2 separate regions of the Homo sapiens genome follow, and region 1 is reported to be linked to region 2. The links are microRNA targets in miRTarBase. Many come from high-throughput screens and were not tested one by one. Region 2 holds a microRNA gene; the other region holds the end of a gene's coding sequence.
What was found. The annotated mature microRNA hsa-miR-371a-3p reads AAGUGCCGCCAUCUUUUGAGUGU and lies in region 2 at 2,836-2,858, opposite strand. An mRNA with a match to its seed (bases 2 to 7 or 8) in the 3' UTR can be bound and repressed. Matches are read on the target gene's strand: a 7mer-m8 pairs with bases 2 to 8, a 7mer-A1 pairs with bases 2 to 7 and ends in A, and an 8mer does both.

Region 1: the mRNA of ESCO2 is a reported target of hsa-miR-371a-3p. The part of its 3' UTR that is shown has no 7-base or 8-base seed match.

The regions. Positions count from the first base shown.
Region 1 is chr8:27,802,398-27,809,500 of GRCh38, forward strand. It overlaps ESCO2 (establishment of sister chromatid cohesion N-acetyltransferase 2), which reads left to right. Exons shown (of 11, transcript NM_001017420.3): 11 at 909-2,919. The coding sequence ends at 1,041. Among named protein-coding and RNA genes, the nearest start is that of ESCO2, 31 kb to the left of the region's middle.
Region 2 is chr19:53,783,452-53,790,573 of GRCh38, reverse strand. It overlaps MIR371A (microRNA 371a), which reads right to left and starts at 2,899; the gene lies at 2,833-2,899. MIR371B (microRNA 371b) reads left to right here and starts at 2,832; the gene lies at 2,832-2,897. It overlaps MIR372 (microRNA 372), which reads right to left and starts at 2,684; the gene lies at 2,618-2,684. MIR373 (microRNA 373) reads right to left here and starts at 1,869; the gene lies at 1,801-1,869. It also overlaps LOC124904767.

The DNA of each region.
Region 1 (7,103 bases), not on the chromosome of region 2:
CAATCCTGGCCAACATGGAGAAACCCTGTCTCTACTAAAAAAAAATAAATAAATACCAAATTAGCCGGGTGTGGTGGTGCATGCCTGTAATCCCAGCTACTCGGGAGGCTGAGGCAGGAGAATCGCTTGAACCCGGGAGGCGGAGGTTTGTAGTGAGCAGAGATCGTGCCACTGCACTCCAGCCTGGGCGACAAAGTGAGACTCTGTCTCAAAAAAAAAAAAAAAAAAAAAAAATATATATATATATATATATATATATTATATATATATATATATAGTTACTGCTTAAGATTGATTTTTTTTGGTTCTAATTATCTTTGGCTTTTAATTAACAATATGATCTTTTTTTTATTTTTATTTTTTGATTGAGTTGGAGTCTCACTCTGTTACCCAGGCTGGAGTGCAGTGGCGAGATATCGGCTCACTGCAACCTCCGCCTCCTGGGTTTAAGTGATTCTCCTGCCTCAGCTTCCCAAGTAGCTGGGACTACAGGCATGCACCACCATGCCCGGCTAATTTTTGTATTTTTAGTAGAGACAGGGTTTCACCGTGTTAGGATAGTCTCGACCTCGTGATCCGTCCGCCTTGGCCTCCCAAAGTGCTGGGATTACAGGCGTGTGCCACTGCGCCTGGCCTAGCAATATGATCTTATATTAGTTGCTCTTTACCATGGATATCCTAGAGTTAGGTGGATGGTTCCCTTTGCCTCTCATCAGAATTTTTTCTGGACCTTAGTTTTCCCATCTGTGAAATGATATCATTAGACTTCTGTCTCTAAAATATAAGGCATTTTTTCACTTACTAAAAATAAGGTTGATTTAAGTCAAGAGTATTTACTTAAATTGTGCTCATGTTAATTAGAATGTTAAGTTGCTTCCATCATTAAATCATCTTTTCTTCTCTTTTAGGAATTGCTTCATGTTTGGCTGTTTTCTCAGCACTGATGAAATAGCATTTTCTGACCCAACACCAGATGGCAAGTTATTTGCAACCAAGTACTGCAACACCCCTAATTTCCTCGTATATAATTTTAATAGTTAAAGCTGATTTCAGTTATAAAGGAGTTACTATCTGGATAAGTTCAAAGAGCTCCTTATTATAAAATACAAACTATTTAATATCAAAATAAAAAATACCGAGACTCACACTCATACACACACACACACACACGCACACACACATATCACAGTTTTGTTCCTTATGAGTTGAAAAGTCAGGAATAAATTTGTTGAAAATTATCTGGGGATTCAAAGGAAAAATCTTTGGGTGATTCCCTGATTAGCACTCTGAATGTTTAATTATGAAACTTTGTAGCTATAACTGGAAAATTACCTGACTCTTTGTAAGAGTATTAAATACAAAGTGATTTTTCTCTAGAAATGTGACCTGGTCTTTTATAAAGCCCACTCTTAGACCAGGATTATCTAATGCCACATCAGAAGCAAACAGGCAAATTTAAACTTGGGCAAGTAATTTCTGTGCCCAATTTGTAAAGGGAATTCCTGAATTTTTTTTTTTTTTTAATAGAGGCATGGGTCTCACTGTGTTGCCCAGGCTGGTCTGAAACTTTTGGGCTCAAGCGATCCTCCCAAAACGCTGGGATTACAGTCATGAGCCACCGTGCCCAGCCTAATTCCTGACTTCTCTATACAGAGTCTTCACTTGATAGGCACTCGTCTGTAGTAACTCAGTTTGAATATCTTTAGAAAATGTTTAGAATTTATTTGTAACAAGATGGTAAGGAATAAGATTATCCCATATGCATTTCTGTAGAGCAGAATTTGATAGCTTAGTGTTCAATCTTTTTGAAAATAAATGTTTACCTGTCATCAGATTTAATTAAAATTATACTTAGTAATTGCACTATTACTTAGTTAATTTTTGTTGTATGGAAATATTGGTAGTACTACTTTGGGAACCTGTTACTGACAATTGATGTCATTAACAAAATGCCTAGTTGGATTAGATGTTTTCATTTTCTAATTTTTTGCTTGTTTAAAATGCACCTTACTTGTTCTGAGATACCTGGCAAAAGTCTTTACAAAATGTATGGTAATAGAACCAAGGTTAGTAAATATACATAGGCTGGTGGATGAGAGACCATGGAACTGTGTAAATACACTTAAATGTTCACACATTTTTCTAGTGTAATTCTTGGATACTTTAAAAAGCAAAACATTGTTCAAATTGTTTTGATTCTGAAAAATCATTCAACTGCTAACTGGCAATAAGACTCTAGGCAAGTCGTTTTCCAGATTGTAATTATATGTAGAAACTATTCATCTGCATTCATTTTATTTGCCTGTAAGTTAACATGTTTCCAAAATTTAAAAGCCTGGGTCCCCAAAAGAATGTGGAAGTATTAAAATGTATGTAATTATGCAAACATTTTAATGCTATTTTCTGCACTTATTTCTTTTAAATATTTTATTTAAAATTTTTAATTAACATTTTGTTTGCTTAATGCTTTTGTTATGAATCAATTAAAATTCTTTATTTTATACAACTAAATCTGATTTTAATTATTTTATTATGAAAATAGTATATGTTAAATAAAATTCAGATAATACAGAAATAGAGATTGCCAAAAGAAGAGGCTTCCCGGCCGGGCGCGGTGGCTCACGCCTGTAATCCCAGCACTTTGGGAGGCCGAGGCGGGTGGATCATGAGGTCAGGAGATCGAGACCATCCTGGCTAACAAGGTGAAACCCCGTCTCTACTAAAAATACAAAAAATTAGCCGGGCGCGGTGGCGGGCGCCTGTAGTCCCAGCTACTCGGGAGGCTGAGGCAGGAGAATGGCGTGAACCCGGGAGGCGAGCTTGCAGTGAGCCGAGATTGCGCCACTGCAGTCCGCAGTCCGGCCTGGGCGACAGAGCGAGACTCCGTCTCAAAAAAAAAAAAAAAAAAAAAAAAAAAAAAGAAGAGGCTTCCCTTAATCCTGCTTTGAGTTTAGTGCTTATTACTTTAGAATAACTAAATACATATGCAGTTATTTTGCATCTTGCCTCACTTCAGTATGTCTTAGATATGTTGTATTTCAAGAACTATTTCTATTTTAAATATTTAGCATGATTTGCTATTGATACTGTTGTCTTGGTTGGGTGTTTTTTGTTTGTTTGTTTGTTTTGTTTTTAAGTATAACACATACAAGAAGCAAGTGCACTGAGATGGTCTCAAAGCAATGATACCCTAATGGCAATGAGCACACCTACCACCCAGATCTTGGTTGGTTTCTTTCTTTTTTTCCCCCGCCCTGGGCTGAAGTGCAGTGGTACAAACACGGCTCACTGCAGCCTCGACCTCCCAGGTTCAAGTGATCTTCCCGCCTGAGCTCCCTAAGTAGCTGGGACTACAGGTGTGTGTCACCACGTCTGCTTAATTTTTGTATTCTTTTTTTAGTAGAGACAGAGTGTCACCATGGTGCCCAGCCAGTCCTTAAGCTCCTGAGGCCCTTGAGCTCCTGAGCTGAAGTGATCCTCCCACTTCAGCCTCCCAAAGTGCTGGATTATAGGTGTGAGCCACGGCACCCAGCCAGATCTTGCTTACTAATACCTTCTTCCACAAAAGGACCTGGGGCTCTTTGGAGAAATGGCTCATTCTAGGGATAGGGCAATGAATGTACAAGATGAGCCTAGATCACCTTGTACATCCCCCCTTATCTGCAATTTCGCTTCCCACAGTTTGTTACCAAAAATATTGCATGGAAATTTCTAGAAGTAAGGAATTCATAAGTTTTAAATTGCCCACCATTCAGAGTAGCCACAGTGGGGTGATAAGTGCTCAGTTAAGATGGAAAAGGCATTAAATTTGTGGGCAGAAGACATGCACAGAAACATATTCCTATTGAGGGCAATCAGGTTGAGTACTGTCCATGGTTTCAGGCATTCTACTGGGGGTCTTTGTCATAAATTGTGCCAATATATGTGTATGTCTATTTCTGCCTGTGTATTCTTACTAATTTTATATAGGTTCTATTTATGCTAATACCAGACTGTGTTAATTATAGTATCAATGTTTGCTATAGTATTAGTACATGGTCCCACTTTTTTTCTTCGGTCTATTATTGGACTTTGCATTTCCATATACATTTTAGAATCAATTTATTCCACAAAAAGCTACCAACAACAAAAAAGCCTGTTGGGATTTTATTGGAATTGTGTCAGATCTATAGATCAATTTGGGAGGACTGATTTTTAGACTTGCTCAAGTATTGGATACTTTCTTTTTTTTTTTTTTTTTAGACGGAGTTTTGCTCTTGTTGCCCAGGCTGGAGTGCATTGGCACTATCTTGGCTCACTGCAACCTCCACCTCCCGGGTTCAAGCTATTGTCTGCCTCAGCCTCCAGTAGCTGGGATTCCAGGTGCATGCCACCACGCCCAGCTAATTTTGTATTTTTAGTAGAGACGGGGTTTTACCATGTTGGCCAGGCTGGTCTTTAACTCTTGACCTCCAATAATCCACCCACTTCAGCCTCCCAAAGTCCTGGGATTATAGGCATGAGCCAGTATGCCCAGCTGTTACTTTTTTTTAAGCCATTGGGAAAAGTGTTTTAAGTTACATCTTGTTTGCTGATATATAAACTACAAGTTTTCTGTTTTGACTTTGTATTCACAATCTTTCTAAACTTAATTAATTCTAATTTATCTATTTCTATCTACATAATATCTGTGAATGAGTTTTCTTTTAGAATCTTACAGCTTTTTTGTTCTTACAATATTGCATTTCTAAGATTGCCAGTCTAGTACAGTGTTGAATAAAAGCAATGGTAGGGGGCATATTTGTTTCATTGCTGATAATAGGTAAAGTTTTCAACATTTTACTATTAAATATAAGGTTTATAGTTTCTTTGTAGATAAATTTCTAATATTAAGGAAGTTCCTCTGTCTATTCCTAGGTTTCTAGGAAGCTCTCAAACATCTTGAACAGATACTCAGATTTTATAAAAAGTCTTTCTTCTATCTTTGGAGATGATTTTGATTTTTCTTTATTGTTAATATGGCGGTTACATTGTTCTTTGAATGTTAAAGCAATCTAGCCTCCCTGAACTAAATAAACCAAACCCAATTTGGTCTTGATGTTTTTCTTTTTAATGTTATTGGCTTCAGTGAACTAGTTTTCTTTTGGACTTTTCATGTGTTCTTGAATAAGATTGGGTATCTGTAGGATCTGTAGTAAAGGTTTTTTCATTCATGACATGTCTTTTTTCTCCACAGATGAGTTTTGCCTAGGGGTTTATCAATTTTGTTAGTATTTTTGAAGATTGGCATTGTTAATCCTATCATAGGTTTGTTTTCTATTTCCTGTAAGTTTTAATTTTTTCCCCCCATTGGAAGGGAGGTACTATGGTCTGAATGTGTTCTACCAAAAATTGTATGTTGAAACCCTGTCCCCCAAGATGATGTAATACCATCGTAAGTAGTGTCTTTAGGAAGGTGAATGGGTCATGATGGTGGAAGGAACCCTTAGGGATTAATGCCCTTATAAAAATAGAGGGTCGGGGAGCTCCCTTGCTCTGTCCACCATGTAAAGACACAGCCAGAAGGTGCCTTCTATGAGGATGCCCTCACCAGATACCATCTTGATCTTGGACTTCCTAGTCTCTGGAACTATGAGAAATTTCTGTGGTTTGAGGCACCTCGTTTATGGTATTTTTGTTATAGTAGTCTAAGACGGGAGACTTGTTTTGTTTTTCCCAAATTCTTAGCTGATATATATAGCATTTTTTTATATATAGTTTTTATATGTAGCATTTGTCTAGTTTAAAATCCTTTCTAATTTTTATTCTAATCAACAGATTGTAGAAGATTAAATAGGTACCAGGAGACATGAAAGAATCATCTTCAACATTTCTCAAGTAGCTGCTGATTATCTCCTTTTATGGAGGCATAACAAGCTCCTGGAGGCTTCTACAGATTCTAAAGGGAAAGATTTCCTGGGAGGTGAGAAAGCCACTTGAGAGAAGGCTATTTTGATTTACTAATTAATTCAGTGTAAAGGTAGTCCTGGGCACGGTGGCTCACGCCTATAATCCCAGCAGTTTGAGAGGCCTAGACAGAGGTTGCTCAGGAGTTCCAGAGCAGCCTGAGCAACTTGGTAAAACCCTGTCTCTACAAAAAATAAAAAAAAAAAAATTAGCCAGGTGTGGTGGCACACACCTGTGGTCCCAGCTACTCGGAGTGGGAGGCAGAGGTGCAAGGATCACTTGTGCCTGGGAGGTTGAGACTGCAGTGAGCCATGATTGCCCCACTGTACTCCAGCCTGAGTGACAGAGCAAGACCCTGTCTCAAAAAAAAAAAAAAAAAAAGCCCTCAGCCAAGTCACATGTTGCTCTTTTGAGAATGAGGCAAATGTCCAAAAAGATAACATCTGAGACTTAGAGCAAGTTCTAGAACAAGAATAAAAAAAATTTTCTTCCAGTTGGTAGCAGATTGTCTGCAATCTTGTGTTGAGGATTTCTAGGACCTCACCAGACTCAAGGGGCAGTGCATGCTGGGATTATTTTGTAATGTCTACCATAGACAAGGGCTGTGAATTTGCTGGTCTTGTCCTTGGTATTAGTTTATTCCTATTAGATATCTCAACTGTAGGAAGTGGAAATAAATTTCTCAATGAAAAGCAATGGCTTATGTATTAAAGAGCCAATTCAAGAAAGATCCAGTTCCTGCTTTAAGTCTTAAAGCAGGAACTGCTATTCCTGCTAGGAAAAGAATGCCCTGGAGAAGCTGCTCTGTTGGCTTGGCAAAGAAGAGTGACACATGTCAGAGTGAGGATAAGAGACCCTATTGAGTATCAGGATGCAAAATTATACATACGTTTTTCTACAAATTAAGACAACTTCCAATTTACTTGTCACATTATTTTGATGGAATATATGCAAATTAATGTTGTGTCCTATTGCTTGGTACAATCTTATACCAAAAGGCCTTCAGTGATTTCTAGGCATTTTTAAAGTTCAGAGTGCAGTTGTTCCTAATGTTTCTGAGAACGCCCTGTGTCGGTAATTTTTAAAATTCTGTCTACACCCAAATGTAGGTATACCACCTACATTGGCAATTCAGTAATTTGGAAAATTCCCAGGGGACTGTGGCTTACAGAAACTAC
Region 2 (7,122 bases):
ATCCCCAAGCTGCCCGTAGAAAAGATGACAGGAGGCCCAGGTAGGTCAAATATAAAGAGAAGTCTTACTGGTTACCGTGGCGGACTCCCCACCAGTGGTGGCGGTATTGGGACAGAGGCTACAACTGCTTTATGAATTGCGGGTACAAATAGCAAAACAAAACTCCCTTGAATTTGAGATCTTACTTCAGTTCAGATACTGTGGAGTGGGCAAAGCAGCCGCAAGGGTTTGGAACACCTACAGGGGATAGGAAAACTTACAGGGGATAGTGGCCAGCAGACCCGGAAACCAGTGATAGGGCAAACAGCAACTAAGAACCTACTGAAGGCCCCACGTGGTGGCTCACGCCTATAATCCCAGCACTTTGGGAGGCCGAGGTGGGTGGATCACCTGGGGTCAGGAGTTCCAGAGCAGCCTGGCCAACGTGGAGAAATCCCATCTCTAAAAAATGCAAAAAATTAGCCAGGCGTGGTGGCTTATGCCTGTAATCCCAGCTACTTGGGAGGCGGGGGCAGGAGAATCGCTTAAGCTGGCAGAGGTTGCAGTGAACCAAGATTGCGCCATTGCGCTCCAACCTGAGCGAGAGCACGAGACCATCTGAAGCAAAAAAACCTTCCAAATATGAACTTAGGCCTGGCACTGTGGCTCACACCCATCATCCCAGGGAGGCCACCCAGGGCAAGACAGTAAAGCCCCATCTCTACTAAAGGAGGGATGTTTGATTCCCCCTAAGTTTCAGACCAAGCTGGCCAATGTATGAGACCCCAATTTCTACTAAACATTAGTGGAGCATGGCGGGGACACTCCTGTGGTGCCAGCTACTAAGGGTGGGGTGAGGGGGGGCTTATATGGGAAGATCTTTTGATCTAGGGAGCTCAGGCCTGCAGGGAGCTGTGATGGTGCCACCACACTTCAGCCTGGGTGGTTTTTATTTTTTGAGACAGTTATCGCTGTCACCCAGGCTGGAGTGCAGTGGCACAACCTCGGCTGGCTGCAAGCTCCACCTCCCGGGTTCATGCCCTTTCTGCCTCAGCCTGTGACTACAGGCACCCACCGCCATGCCCGGCTAATGTTTTTGTATTTTTTAGTAGAGATGTGGTTTCACCGTGTGAGCCAGGATGGTCTTGATCTGACCTCATGATCAGCCTGCGTCGGCCTCGGCAGTGCTGCCACTGTGCCCGGCCTTACTTTTTAAACTTGTTTGAAGTTTAAAGAGCAGAACTCTCAAAGAGCATAACTCTAAGTTCTAGCAGGGGTAGAAGGGAAGCACAAAATACTGACAAGTATTTTTAGGCAATGTACTTGGGTCATAGAAGAAGGTTCAGTAACGCCAGACATGAGGCTCATGCCTGTAATCCCAGCACTTGTGGGTGGCAGAGGAACCCAATAGACCAGAAACACATGATGTTGTTCACATTTTATTAAAAAAAAAAGTTAGGAAAAGTGAGACTGTGGCATTGTCCGTGTAGCAGGGTGGAAGCACTCCAGCCCATGCTCTGGCCAAACCCACTTCAAGCCTTACATGCATGCTGCCTACCAAATTCAGGAACAGGACCCCAAATTCCCTTTAAGGCCAACCAGATTCCCCCGACACCCCATCAAGCTTTTCCTGCCCTGTTCATCTGCAGGTGAACCCCGTATCCTGCCCACCCCAGAATATGCCAATTTTTATTATCTAAAATGGAGCATACAGACTGGTGCCCCGCAGAGAAGCCCGGGAACTCCAGGTCATAGCTGAAGCTGCAGTCAGACCCGCAGGCTCCCTTGAAGCAGGATGGTTCGTGATGCCCTACTCAAACAGGGACACCCCAAAATCGAAGCACTTCCCAGTACAGACAAAAAGGAAAGCGCCCCCATTTTGAGTATCCCAGTATGAGCTCCTCGCGAGGATCTGCCATCACTGTGACTTTCTTGCCTACAAGAGGTTGGCCTCCAATCATCCAAGCACATGTTAAATGTCAGCAATAAACTTGCTTGCTATGGGGGAAGAGGAAAGTTACATATCAATTATAACACCAACAGCAAAAAGCATTCCTTTCTTTGTGCATACAGCCCCTTGGTCACAGCTGCTGTTTTTTTTTTTTTTTTTCTTTGAGAATGAGTCTTGCTCTGTCGCCCAGGCTGGAGTGCGGTGGCGCGATCTCGGCTCACTGCAAACTCCGCCTCCCGGGTTCACGCCATTCTCCTGCCTCAGCCTCCCAAGTAGCTGGGACTACAGGCGCCCGCCACCACGCCCGGCTCATTTTTTGTATTTTTAGTAGAGACGGGGTTTCACCGTGTTAGCCAGGATGGTCTCGATCTCCTGACCTCGTGATCCGCCTGCCTCGGCCTCCCAACGTGCTGGGATTACAGGTGTGAGCCGCCGCGCCCGGCGCAGGCGCACAGCCGCCCTCTGAACCTTCTCTTCCTTTCACCATCTAACCCAGATTCCCTTAGTTGTGTCAGGTGAGAGCCCAGGAGGCCCCCTTCCCTTCCCCAGGTTTTCCGGAGCCATTACAGCCAGACGCTGTAAGGGACCTGTACCCAAGACAGTTTCCGGCTGGGAATCGAAACCACAGGCTCTTTAGTTCCTGCAGAAGACCGAGCTCCACGGCATCCGTTGATATGGGCGTCACCGGTGACGCTCAAATGTCGCAGCACTTTCCACTTGGACATCAGAATAGTGCTCCACATTTGAGGCCCACAGGGTGAGCAGCTCCATCTGCAAGAGCCCCGGCCAAGAAATTTATATCACGAGGAAACGGCCATAGGCAGGGTCTAGGGCCATCCTGCTACCCGCCCCCTCACCCAATCAAAATGGTATCTTCTCCGCAGGTTGAGTCTTCTCAAGCGGTAACACTCAAAAGATGGCGGCACTTTCACCAGAGAGCAGAAAGTGCCCCCACAGTTTGAGTGCCACAGGCTGAGGGGATGCGGCAAGGCGGCGATCGCAAGTGGAAGCACTTACCCATCAGAAGAGGCTTTTAAGCAAGGAGGTGGAGAGTAGCCCTTGATGAGCTGTTGAAGGTCTACAAAGCACGAATTTAACGACCCTTTCTTAAAAAGTAAAAAACAAGGCTTTCCACGTATAGATATTCAAAGCACTCCCCCGCCCATAGCCTCCAGATGCAAGCCATGAGGACTGAGTACAATGCAAGTAGGAAGGAACACGTGTGAGGGACAGTGGGGCCTTCGTCCTTAAGACTGAAAAAAAATCACAGAAATAGAACAAAAGTACAGCCCGGCTGGGCGGAGTGGCTCAAGCCTGTAGTCCCAGCTACTCGGAAGGCTACGGTGGTAGGATTGCTCTTGAGCCCAGGAGTTCGAGACCAGCTTGGATAACATAGAAAACCCCATCTCTCCTAAAAAAAAAAAAAAAAAAGCAGAAAAACGCACATGGGAATGGTGGTGCGCGCCTGTGGTCCCAGCTACTGGAGGCTAAAAGGGTGAGTCCCAGGAGGTCGAGGCTGCAAGGCGCCATCATCCTACCTGTGCACTTCATCCTGGGCGACAGTGAGATCCTGACCCTAAAAAATAAAGTAAAATGAAAGAAAATAAAATAACATAGCAATACTCACAGAGGCCAATGATACGTCCACACCTCAGGTCTGCCAGAAAGAACAAGGTTCACTGCAGCTGCGTTCTTATATAGGGTGAGAGCCCACTCAACTTTGATAGGATTAAAGCCCACCCCTTCCCACCCTCTCATTCCCCCTGGTCTCCGCCCCAAGCCACCCTGCTCCCTTTGATCCTAGCTTGCCTTAGTCAGACACACCTTCATAAACTTTTTCAAACACTGATTCAAATAGAAATTAGGTGATCCCTATTACTAGTAACGCCAACATGTATTCGTTATAAATACATTGGAAAACACAGAGAAATAACCAGAAGAAAATCATTCCACCAGTCATCCACTCAACAAATATTTAAATATAGTATTTTGGCAGAGCGCAGTGGCTCACACCTGTAATCCCAGCACTTTGGGAGGCCGAGGCGGACGATCACTTGAGGCCGGGAGTTCGAGACTAGCCTGGGCAACATGGCGAAACCCCGTCTCTACCAAAAAAATACAAAAATTACCCACGCATGGTGGTGTGCACCTGTAATCTCAGCTGCTTGGGAGGCTGAGGCAAGAGAATTGCTTGAACCCGGGAGGCAGAGGTTGCAGTGAGCCAAGATTGTGCCACTGCATTCCAGCCTGGGGACAGAGTGAGACCGTGTCTCAAAAAATAAATAAATAGGCTGGGCACAGTGGCTCATGCCTATAATGCCAGAACTTCAGGAGGCCGAGGCAGGCAGATCACGAGGTCAAGCGATCGAGACCATCCTAGCCAACATGGTCTCTACTAAAAATACAAAAATTAGCTCGGCGTGGTGGTGGATACCTGTAGTCCCAGCTCCTCGGGAGGCTGAGGCAGGGGAATTGCTTGAACCCAGGAGGCAGAGGTTGCAGTGAGCCAAGATCGCCCCACTGCACTCCAGCCTGGGTGACAGAGTGAGACTCCATCTCAAAAATAATAATAATAAATTTTAAAAAAATAAAAAAGCTGGGTGCGGTGTGGCTCACACCTATAATCCCTGCTACTCAGGGGGCTGAGGTGGGAGAATCCTTTGAACCCTGGAGGTGGAGGTTGCGGTGAGCCGAGATCACACCACTGCACTCCATTCTGGGCGACAGAGTGAGACTTAGTCTCAAAAAAAAAAAGAGAGGGAGAAAAGAAAAAAACAGTGCGGCAGTGAACATTTTTGAGAGCAACTTTGATAAAAAAGCGGAAACATTTCTGATTTTATTTAATGAAACCACTAGAGTTCCTTTGACCTTGAGGCATAGAGAGGAACTCAAAAAGGTGGGTGTTGGAGAGGTGAGGAGGGGCTTGAAAATGGTAAGTGCTCAAAATAATGAATGACTCAAGGAAGGGGAAGACTTGGGGCCCCAGGAGGCCAGGGTTTCCTTCCCATTTGTAATCCTAGCCAGCTGCGGGAGTACGTGCTCAACCTTTCTGGTTAAACCTAGTTCCTTCATCAATGAAAATGTACAGCATTTGCTGCAAAGGATGGCGAGAGATAGAAATGAGACAGCAAATAGCATGTTTGGCGAGAATCGCTAGAACCCAGGAGGCAGAGGTTGCAGTGAGCTCACATCACGCCACTGCACTCCAGCCTGGGTGATAGAGCCAGACTCCATCTCAAAAAAAAAAAAATTCTTGCTTTGATCTTTGTCAAGGTTGCGGGAGGTCAGTGCTTATGTCCTTACAGCTCAGCCATCCAGATTCCTATCTAACCTACTCACTCCTCTCACACTGCACCTGGATTTTCTGCTATTTGTGAACCACCTGGATGATCTCTCGGGTATTTCCTAGAACTCGGCTTTTTCTCATCACCTCATTTTGTCTTTGCAAATTTCTCCTTTAAGGGCGGCTTTCTTCTCCTGCCCTTGGGCCAGCACAGCGAGTTCATTGCTGACTTTTTTTTTTTTTTTTTGAGACGGAGTCTCCCTCAGCCACCCGGGCTGGAGTGCAGTGGCTCGATCTCGGCTCACCACAACCTTCGCCTCCCAGGTTCAAGTGATTCTCCTGCCTCAGCCTCCCGAATAGCTGAAATTACAGGCATGTGCCACCACGCCGGCTAATTTTGTATTTTTAGTAGAGACGGGGTTTCTCCATGTTGGTCAGGCTGTTCTCAAACTCTCAAACTCAGGTGATCTGCCCGCCTCGGCCTCCCAAAGTGCTGGGAATACAGGCGTGAGCCACCGCACCCGGCCAACGTTTGTATTTTTGAATATAAAAAATGTTATTAGTGCAATTGAATTTAATCAACATTCAACAAAGAGTATAGTCAAAGACGATTTTTAAGTGCATTTGAAAGAGGACTGCAGGCAGTGGCTCAAGCCTGTAATCTCAGCAATTTGGAAAGCTGAGGTGGGAGGATCTCTTCAGCCCATGAGTTCAAGGCTGCAGTGAGGCCTGATCCTGCCACTGAACTCCAGCCCAGGTGACAGAGCAAGACCCCATCCCTGGAAAGAAAGAAAAAAGAAAAGAAAAAAGATCCGCTGGGCACGGTGGCTCACACCTGTAATCTCAGCACTTTGGGAGGCCGAGGTGGGCGGATCACCTGAGGTCGGGAGTTCAAGACCAGCCTGGCCAACATGGAGAAACTCCGTCTCTACTAAAAATACAAAATTAGCCGGGGTGGTGGTGCATGCTACTCAGGAGGTTGAGGCAGGAGAATCGCTTGAACCCGGGAGGCGGAGGTTGTGGTGAGCCGAGATCGCGCCATTGCACTCTAGCCTGGGCAACAAGAGCAAAACTCTGTCTCAAAAAAAAAAAAAAACAAAGAATAAAGAAAAAATATCCAATGTGATATTTTACTTTTTTGTTGTATAATTTGTTTAAAAATATAGAGATGGGCTGGGCATAGTGGCTCATTCCTGTAATCCCAGCACTTTGGGAGGCTGATGCAGGCGGATCAGTTGAGGTCAGGAGTTCAAGACCAGCCTGGTCAACATAAGAAAACCCCGTCTCTACTAAAAAATACAAAAATTAGCCCGGTGTGGTGGTGGGCGCCTGTAATCCCAGCTACTCGGGAGGCTGAGGCAGGGAGAAATGCTTGAACCTGGGAGGCAGAGGTTGCAGTGAGCCGAGATCACACCATTCACTTTAGCCTGTGTGACAGGGCAAGACTCCGTCTCAAAAAAAGAAAAAGAAAGAAAGAAAAAAAATACATATATATATATATATATATGAGAGAGAGAGAGAGAGAGAGAAGAGAGAGAGAGAGAGGGAGATGCTGGTCTTGCTTTGTTGCCTAGGCTGGTCTCAAACTCCTGGGCTCAAGCGAACCTCTCACCTTGGCCTCCCAAAGTGCTGGGATTACAGGCATAAGCCACCACGCCTGGCCCAATTTGACTTTTTTTTTGACAATTGATAACATTGGTGGTGAGACCAGTTTAAGACTTGACCTTCCCCCCCCACAACCAGGCTTGACAAGAAAAATCAAATTGAAAAAAATTTAAAATTCAAGATGCGCTTCTTAGATTTTCATTCTGACCTGACAAGTATAGTTGATCTGGTCTTGTATTATTGCGGTAATTCAACACACATATTTAACGTAAAGCCTCAAATTGTAATAATTGTATTAACTATT